Linked DNA regions of Homo sapiens. The main gene of each other region encodes a partner of the protein of the gene in region 2 in a complex. Each region holds a gene or a part of one and is shown on either strand. Other genes may lie near its edges.

What was found. Proteins that work in one complex are often made in the same cells at the same time.
Region 1: the proteins of PDCL3 (region 2) and CCT4 are in contact, whole or in part, in a cryo-EM structure (PDB 8I9Q), measured with the Homo sapiens proteins. Residues at the interface, in NP_076970.1 of Homo sapiens: Ala70, Ile71, Tyr74, Arg75, Arg78, Leu79, Trp82, Lys86; in NP_006421.2 of Homo sapiens: Val266, Gln271, Met272, Leu276, Glu279, Arg280, Leu312, His315.

Annotation. Positions count from the first base shown.
Region 1 is NC_000002.12:61,886,719-61,890,534, forward strand, and holds the start of CCT4 (T-complex protein 1 subunit delta), read right to left. Parts: upstream 1,939-3,816; 5' UTR 1,790-1,938; coding exon 1,663-1,789; intron 1-1,662. UniProt on the Homo sapiens protein: Component of the chaperonin-containing T-complex (TRiC), a molecular chaperone complex that assists the folding of actin, tubulin and other proteins upon ATP hydrolysis.
Region 2 is NC_000002.12:100,561,409-100,565,008, forward strand, and holds the start of PDCL3 (phosducin-like protein 3), read left to right. Parts: upstream 1-1,584; 5' UTR 1,585-1,659; coding exon 1,660-1,665; intron 1,666-1,896; exon of another isoform or gene 1,897-2,101; intron 2,102-3,600. UniProt on the Homo sapiens protein: Acts as a chaperone for the angiogenic VEGF receptor KDR/VEGFR2, increasing its abundance by inhibiting its ubiquitination and degradation.

The sequences.
Region 1 (3,816 bases), about 39 Mb from region 2:
GTTGAATATCAACCATATTATAAACTCTCTTGGCCCCCAAATTTATCTTTTTTTTTTTTTGAGACGGAGTTTCGCTCGTCACCCTGGCTGGAGTGCAATGGCGCGACGTCAGTTCACGGCAACCTCCGCCTCCCAGGTTCAAGCTATTCCCCTGCCTCAGCCTCCCGAGTAGCTGGGACTACAGGCCTACGCCAACACACCCACCTAATTTTGTATTTTTAGTAGAGACGGGGTTTCTCCATGTTGGTCAGGCTGGTCTTGAACTCCTGACCTCATGTGATCCGCCAGCCTCAGCCTCCCAAATTGCTGGGATTACAGACGTGAGCCACCCTGCCCGACCCAAAATTTATCTTTCAACATTCTGTTCCTAATCTAATAAATGTAAGCTTCAACTATGGTCCCTAGACAATTATCCTACAAACCTTCGTTTCCAGGTGTATTATCTCCTAAACTTACAAATGACTCCTAAATCTGGCCATTCTGACCTTTCCAACTCATTAGGACAAGTTAGAAACTATTACTTTTTCTTACATCCAGCGTTACCTATCTTAGCGCCATCACATTCCCAGTTACTTGGGCTGATGACTGCAAACACATGTAAGGTGTACTTTATATACGTGGGTCTTTATATGCTTTCTCACTGAATCCTCACAGCAAGCCTACACGATGGCTAAAAAGAAATGATCCCATAGCTGGGGGAGATTAAGCCAAATACTTTCCAGGACACCAGGCCTTTAACATCTGCCCCAACCTAGCTTTCTAATCTCACCTCTTCTGTAAACATACTACTATTCTCCAACCCAAAAGAACTACTATACTCAATATACACTCGGGCAAGATCTCTAAACCTCTGTCCTGACTTTTCCTTCCAGATTTTTCTATTTCAACTCGATTTCTCTTAATCTTAACTCTAAAAAGCAAACATTTTCCTCCAATTTTATAAGTGAATCTTTGGCACAGAGGTTACAGGTCACTAAGACATGAAGTAACGGAAGCAGAGAATGAAACTCTGGTCTTCCTGATTTCCAACGTGTGCCACACACTTCCACAAAAAAAACAAATAATTGTTTCTTGATTTGCCTATGTTTCACTGCACATGCGGAGACGACATCAACGTAACTTTTCCGCAACTATTTCAAACACGACACGTAAGTCGGTTCCCACATCCATCCCAGTACAATGGGCCCCGCCCCAATTTAGACTCGGAGAGTTCACCCAATTCGTCTCAACAGTTGTGCCAAGTGAAGTTTATTTAATAGTTCTTTAAATAAGAATAACAAAGCTGAAAGATACTGTGCATTCTACCAGTTCCAATAAGCAATAAGCGACAGCCCTCAAGCGTCAGATCCCTAGTGAAGACTGCATGCAATCCTCGGCATTTTGAACTGCTTTCGGCTCCAATATGAATGATGCACAGTGCAGGATGAAAAACTAAGGGAGATTAAGATGCAAAATGGGGCAAGTCCAAAGGCCTCCATACTCCGGGTTGGCGATCATCGGCAGAAAAACAGAAATAAGGATCCCTCCACTGGGCTGCTTCTATAGGGAGGACAAGAGAGGATCACCCGAAGAAATGGGAAATGAGCCAAACCCGCTCAAGCCCACGATGAGAGCGCAGAGCACAACCCCGCGGCGCCGCGGGTCAGGCCATGAGAGTGATACCTTTGGCGGCGGAAATGTTGCTGAAGCGGATCTGGGCTGGCTTGTCGCGGTCCTGATAGGCGCCTTTCCCGCGGCCGCCGGCAGCCCCGGCAGTCGCCCCGCTCCGGGGTGCCACATTCTCGGGCATGGCAAACTCCGCTGTGTCTGGGTTGGCTCGGGAAGGACGGATGGACCCGGATTCTGGCCGGCCGCAGTGTAATAACGGTAAGCCCTCACTGCCTTCACGAACCTTCCAGAAAGCGGCGCCGGCGTCGGGAGGAGGCGGAGGCGGAGAAGGGGGCCTTCCTTGCCGCGCGGCGCTGGCGTGACGTAGGAGGCTGTCCGCTGCGCGCCGGGCGAGGAGGATGCGTGCGGTGGGCTCCGGGCTGGCGAGATTGTACGCCCGGGGCGCTGTGGGTGAAGAGCGCCGGGGGAACCTTTACGCGAGGCAGCAATGACAACGCGCGATTTTAAAGGCGAGTGGTGAGGACATCCGCATTTCCTCACTCCACCTTGCACGGCTATGAGGTCCCCTCCTTTTTTTTTTTTTTTTTTTCTTTTTTTGGATACAGTCTCACTCTGTTGCCCAGGCTGGAGTGCAGTGGCGCAAAATCTCGGCTCACTGCAGCCTCCGCCTCCCAGGTTCAAGCGATCCTCCTCAGCCTCCCGAGTAGCTGGGATTACAGGCGTCCGCCACCATGCCCAGCTAATTTTTGTATTTTTAGTAGAGACAGGGTTTCACCATGTTGGCCAGGCCGGTCTCGAACTCCCGACCTCAGGTGATCCACCCGCCTCGGGCTCCCAAAGTGTTGGGATTACAGGCGTCAGCCACGAAGCCCGGCCTTTTTTTTTTTTTTTTTTTTTTTTGACAGAGTCTCGCTCTGTCGTCCAGGCGGGAGTGCAGTGGGGCGATCTTGGCTCACTGCAGCCTCGACCTCCGGGGCCCAAGCGATCCTCCCGCCACAGCCTCCCAACTAGCCAGGACGACAGGTGCCCGCCACCATGCCTAGCGAATTTTTGTATTCGAAACATAGCGAGACTGGGTTTCGCTGTGTTGCCCAGGCTGGTCTGACCTCCCCGGCTCAAAGCGGTCCACCCTCCTCAGCGTTTCAAAGTACTGGGATTACAGGCGTGAGCCACCGCGCCCACCCGGAGGTGCCCTCCTTTAACTCCGGCTGGATCTATCCGCGAGGTGGGGTGGGCGCCGGAATAACTCTCTAAGGGATATGACTGAGTCTGTTTTTGCCCGGCCACATAGACCTGCATTTTATGCAGTTTTGTTCATTTTGAAAGGGAGTCAGAAAAGGGAGATTTGGAATGAGGCGAGGTTAGTTATCTCGTATTGGTTGATACTGGGTGGTGGAGGTTTGACAGACTGCCAAATCAGGTCTGTCTAGTTACCACCGCCCGCTTGTTCTACACTAGTGTCTCCTGCATGACGTAGCCACTGACTCTTAGGGAACGTAAACATTATAATAAAGATCATTTATTTCCGTTATCTGCTAAGCACAGTGCTAAACCTTTACACGTTTTATATCTCGTTTAGTCCTCACAATAATCCTTTACTTAAAAGGTGAGAGAACTGGAGCCCAAAGAAGGAACTGAAGCCCAGGGTAAACGAGTCAGTAGATAGAAGCAGTATTCCAATACAAAGCAAGGACCAGAAGCCATGAGCTAAACTGCTGGTCTCCTATGACCACTATATTTCAGTAGGGAAGTTTATGAAATGAGGTTTGTTGAATGTTCGCTCACAATTATTAAGCACCTGCAAAGTGACAGTTGCGTGTGGTAGGTTCAGAAACAAATGTTCAAAGGTACTTAATCTTGTAATTATGAGGTGGTGGTGGTGTTGTTTGTTTGTTTGTTTTTGTTTGTTTTTGAGACGGAGTTTCACTCTTGTTGCCCAGGCTGGAGCAGTGGCACCATCTCGGCTCACCGCAACCTCCGCCTCCCGGGTTCAAGCGATTCTCCTGCCTCAGCCTCCCCAGTAGCTGGGATTACGGGCATGCACCACCATGCCCGGCTAATTTTGTATTTTTAGTAGAGACGGGGTTTCTCCATGTTGGACAGGGTGGTTTCGAACTCCCGAGCTCAGGTGATAGGCCCGCCTCGGCTTCCCAAAGTGCTAGGATTGCAGGCTTGGCGAGAGCCACCTCGCCAAGTTGTTCTTTAACA
Region 2 (3,600 bases):
TGGATTGGCTTTGGTTAGAATGCCTCTGACCGGATCATGTGGGGAAGAGCAACTGTAGAATAGCTGAGTCCTGGAAAACAGGCCTCAGGGAACAGCAAAGGCTGGGGATGAGGAAAGGACAAAACACCACCTGCTCTGTTGCTGTGCAGGACTGAGCAAGAAGCACAGGATCAAACTCAAAGTTAGTTCCAGTCCTGATTTTGGTGGTAAGACCCAAGGAAAATTCATTAACAAACATTGTGCTGCCAGATACATTAATAAATCCCTAAAAGGGCCTGTAATTCAGTTGAAATGAGTGAGAAAAATCTTAAGGATCCTTATAAATTAAATAAAAACTCCTTGCTCTCAAGCAATCATTTGATTCACTCTATATCAACGACTGTGCACTTTAGCATCACCTGAGGATCTTTAAGAAAGTATCTGTGCTAGGCCTCATTTCCAAGGATTTAATTTGTCTGGGGATGGAGCCCCAGGACATTCCTAGTTTTTGAGGGCTTCCAGGTGATTCTAATGCATAGCCACGGTTGGAAGCCCTGCGCCTATCTCACAGGTGTGTGGGTCTCTACTCTCTGTGTCCGCTTAGTTGCCAGGAGGCAGCAAGTTAGCCCACGTGTGCAAGATGCTTCCTTCCATACCAGGTAGGAATATTGCTCTCTTAAACTTGGAGTGTGCCTGGGCAGAAGCTCTGGAGCCCAATACCTGCATTTTACAAGTCAGATTGCTGCTTTTTGCTCAGTGCCTGTGTGCCTGCATACATGGGTCTCCTGATACTCAGGCACGGCAGATGACTTTCACCTTTGTTTTAGTGTTTTGCTCACTGCTGCATCTGCAGAGCCTAGAATGGTGCCTGGTACACAGCAGGCTCTCAATGTCTTATTAATGAGTTGCCTTTTCCAAGGCTGAAGTGATCGTGGGTGAATTCCAGAAGACCCTGCATCATTTTTATTTATTTATTTATTTAAGACGGAGTCTCGCTCTGTAACCCAGGCTGGAGTGCAGTGGAGAGATCTCAGCTCACTGCAAGCTCCGCCTCCCCCGTTCAAGCAATTCTTCTGCCTCAGCCTCCAGAGTAGCTGGGATTACAGGCAACCACCACTACGCCCGGCTAATTTTTTTGTATTTTTAGTAGAGACGGGGTTTCACCATGTTGGCCAGGCTGATCTCGAACTCCTGACCTCAAGTGATCCGCCCGCCTCGGCCTGGGATCACAGGCGTGTGCCACCGCGCCCGGCCTAGAGGCAATTTTCTATTTCTGACTTGTTAGGCTAGTCAGAGCGAGACGTCTTTACAGGTTTGGGCCGGCAGCTGGAAAAGGCACACGGCCCCGGGCTCCTCCTCCACCCAGCCCCACCCCTCCTCCGCTGAAGACCAGCCCTAATAAGGCAGCCACCAGAATTAGAACCAGGTCAAGTGCACTCCGAGCAGGACAGTAGGCAGATCCTATCTGGCGCATGCGAACGCTTCTGTGCCAGTTCCTTGAAGAGCAGGCGCAGACTCAAGGCTGTTGCTTCCGCCCTTACTCCCCGCCGCTCGTCCCTGGGCGGGGCGAAGGCTGGGCTGGGGGAAGAGGCGTGGCGGCGCTGTGCGCGTGCACAAAAGAGAGCTGAGGGGCGGGGGCGCTGCGGCACAGCTGGTTTGAGCAACTGAACTGGAAACAAGATGCAGGTGAGCTAGGACGGGTCTCGGGTCTGGGGGCTGCGGCCCGTTCCTTTGTCTCGTTAGGCCCGGGCGGGCAGTGGACGCCCGCCCTGGGGGAAGCTCCGGCGCCGCAGGCACGAGGGAGGCCCGGCGCGTCCAGGCCCTGCGCAGGCGCAGTGCGGGAGGCGGGCGTGGTCCCACCAGGACCCACGGCCTGGGCGTCCCCGCCTCGGTGTGCCGGGTCCCCCAAACCTCGTCCTCCGGGACTATGTCTTCTCGCGGTCTCTACCCACCCGGGCCTGTGAAGGTCTTGCCGGATCCCGCCTAACAAAAGTTACCTCCTCTCCTGAACTCCCCTAAGGCACACCTGGGCAGAGGTGTTAGGAAGCGGAGGGTCCGGCCTGGGGTCTTCCGCACGTAAAGCAGCGCCACAGCCGGTGTTCCTGGCTCCACTGAGAGCCAGGTGAGGGCTTAGTTACACCCTCTTCCCCCGAGCCCTGGGATCCGCTTGGGGCGTGTTCCCTATCTGACCGCTCGGGTTCCAGAGCTCCCCGCGAGGGTCCCTCTGTTTCGTCCTTTTTTTTTTTTTTATTAAAATAGGTAAAATAAATTATTTTTCTGTAGCTGCAATTTACTAGCGGAATTTGGTTAAAGCCTAAGGAGAATGAATGAAAACACCATGGAAATGGGCACTATTGTGGGTGAAAACCTATGCCAACTAAATTTTGTCACTGTCCAAAGATCCCGCAGTGGTCAGAAATTCTAATCTCTGCTTAGTGGCAGATGGAGAGGAGAGGGTGCGGGTTTTGCTGGGGAGGGAGGCATTAGGGGCTGGAGGGGAGGGCGTGTCTGCCAGGAGCCAGACACTGTTTTTTTTTTTTTTGAGACCGGGTCTTGCTCTGTTGCCCAGGCTGGAGTGCAGTGGCTCTGTCACAGCTCACTGCAACCTCGACCTCCCGGGGCTAAGCCATCCTCCCTTGTCAGCCTCCGGAGTAGCTGGGACCACAGGCGTGCACCCACCACTCTGGGCTAATTTTTTGTGCAGATGGGGTCTCCCTATGTTGCCCAGCCTCAGCCTCCCAAAGTGTTGGGATTACAGGATGAGCCACCGCACCTGGCCTAGACACTCTTAAATGGTGAAGTGGTAGCTTGAGGGCTGCCCTGGCCTCCTTTGCATTCCCTGTCCTTCAGGTCCCTTGAGGCCTTCCCTGACCACCCTGTAGAAAGGATTCTGCTCTTTTTGTTTGTTTGTTTGTTTGTTTCTTTTTGAGACAGAGTCTTGCTCTGTCGCCCAGGCTGGAGTGCAGTGGCGCGACCTCGGCTCACTGCAAGCTCCGCCTCTCCAGTTCACGCCATTCTCCTGCCTCAGCCTCCTGAGTAGCTGGGACTACAGGCGCCCGTCACCACTCCCGGGTAATTTTTTGTATTTTTAGTAGAGACAAGGTTTCACCATGTTAGCCAGAATTGTCTCGATCTCCTGACCTGGTGATCTGCCCGCCTAGGCCTTCCAAAGTGCTGGGATTATCGGCATGAGCCACCGCGCCCGGCCTCATTTTTCTTTTGATGTATCTCAGAACTGTTACACAGGGTTGGGGTTGGAGACCGATTATCCCGGTGCCCTTTTCACAGTGCTCCTGATTTCATATTCCAAAGCAAGCCTGAGCTCCATTAGCAGTGTTCTTGCCACACCATGCAAACCGGTGCTTGGGCAGCTGGGTTCTAGATCTAAGAGCCACTTTTACATCAGTCTTTGTGACAATGATCCTTTGTGATTTTGATGCTGGCTGATTTGGCCAGCCGTTCTAGCATGGCAGTGCCTCTAAATGCCGTGCCTCTCCTAGGCTTGTGAGGATTCAGGGACAAGGTACAAGAAAAAGGGCTTAGAGTGCCCTGTATTTTATGAGCTACTCTGAGACGTCTCAGCTTTTCCTCTCAGGTTTGGCCATTAGAGAATTCTGTCAG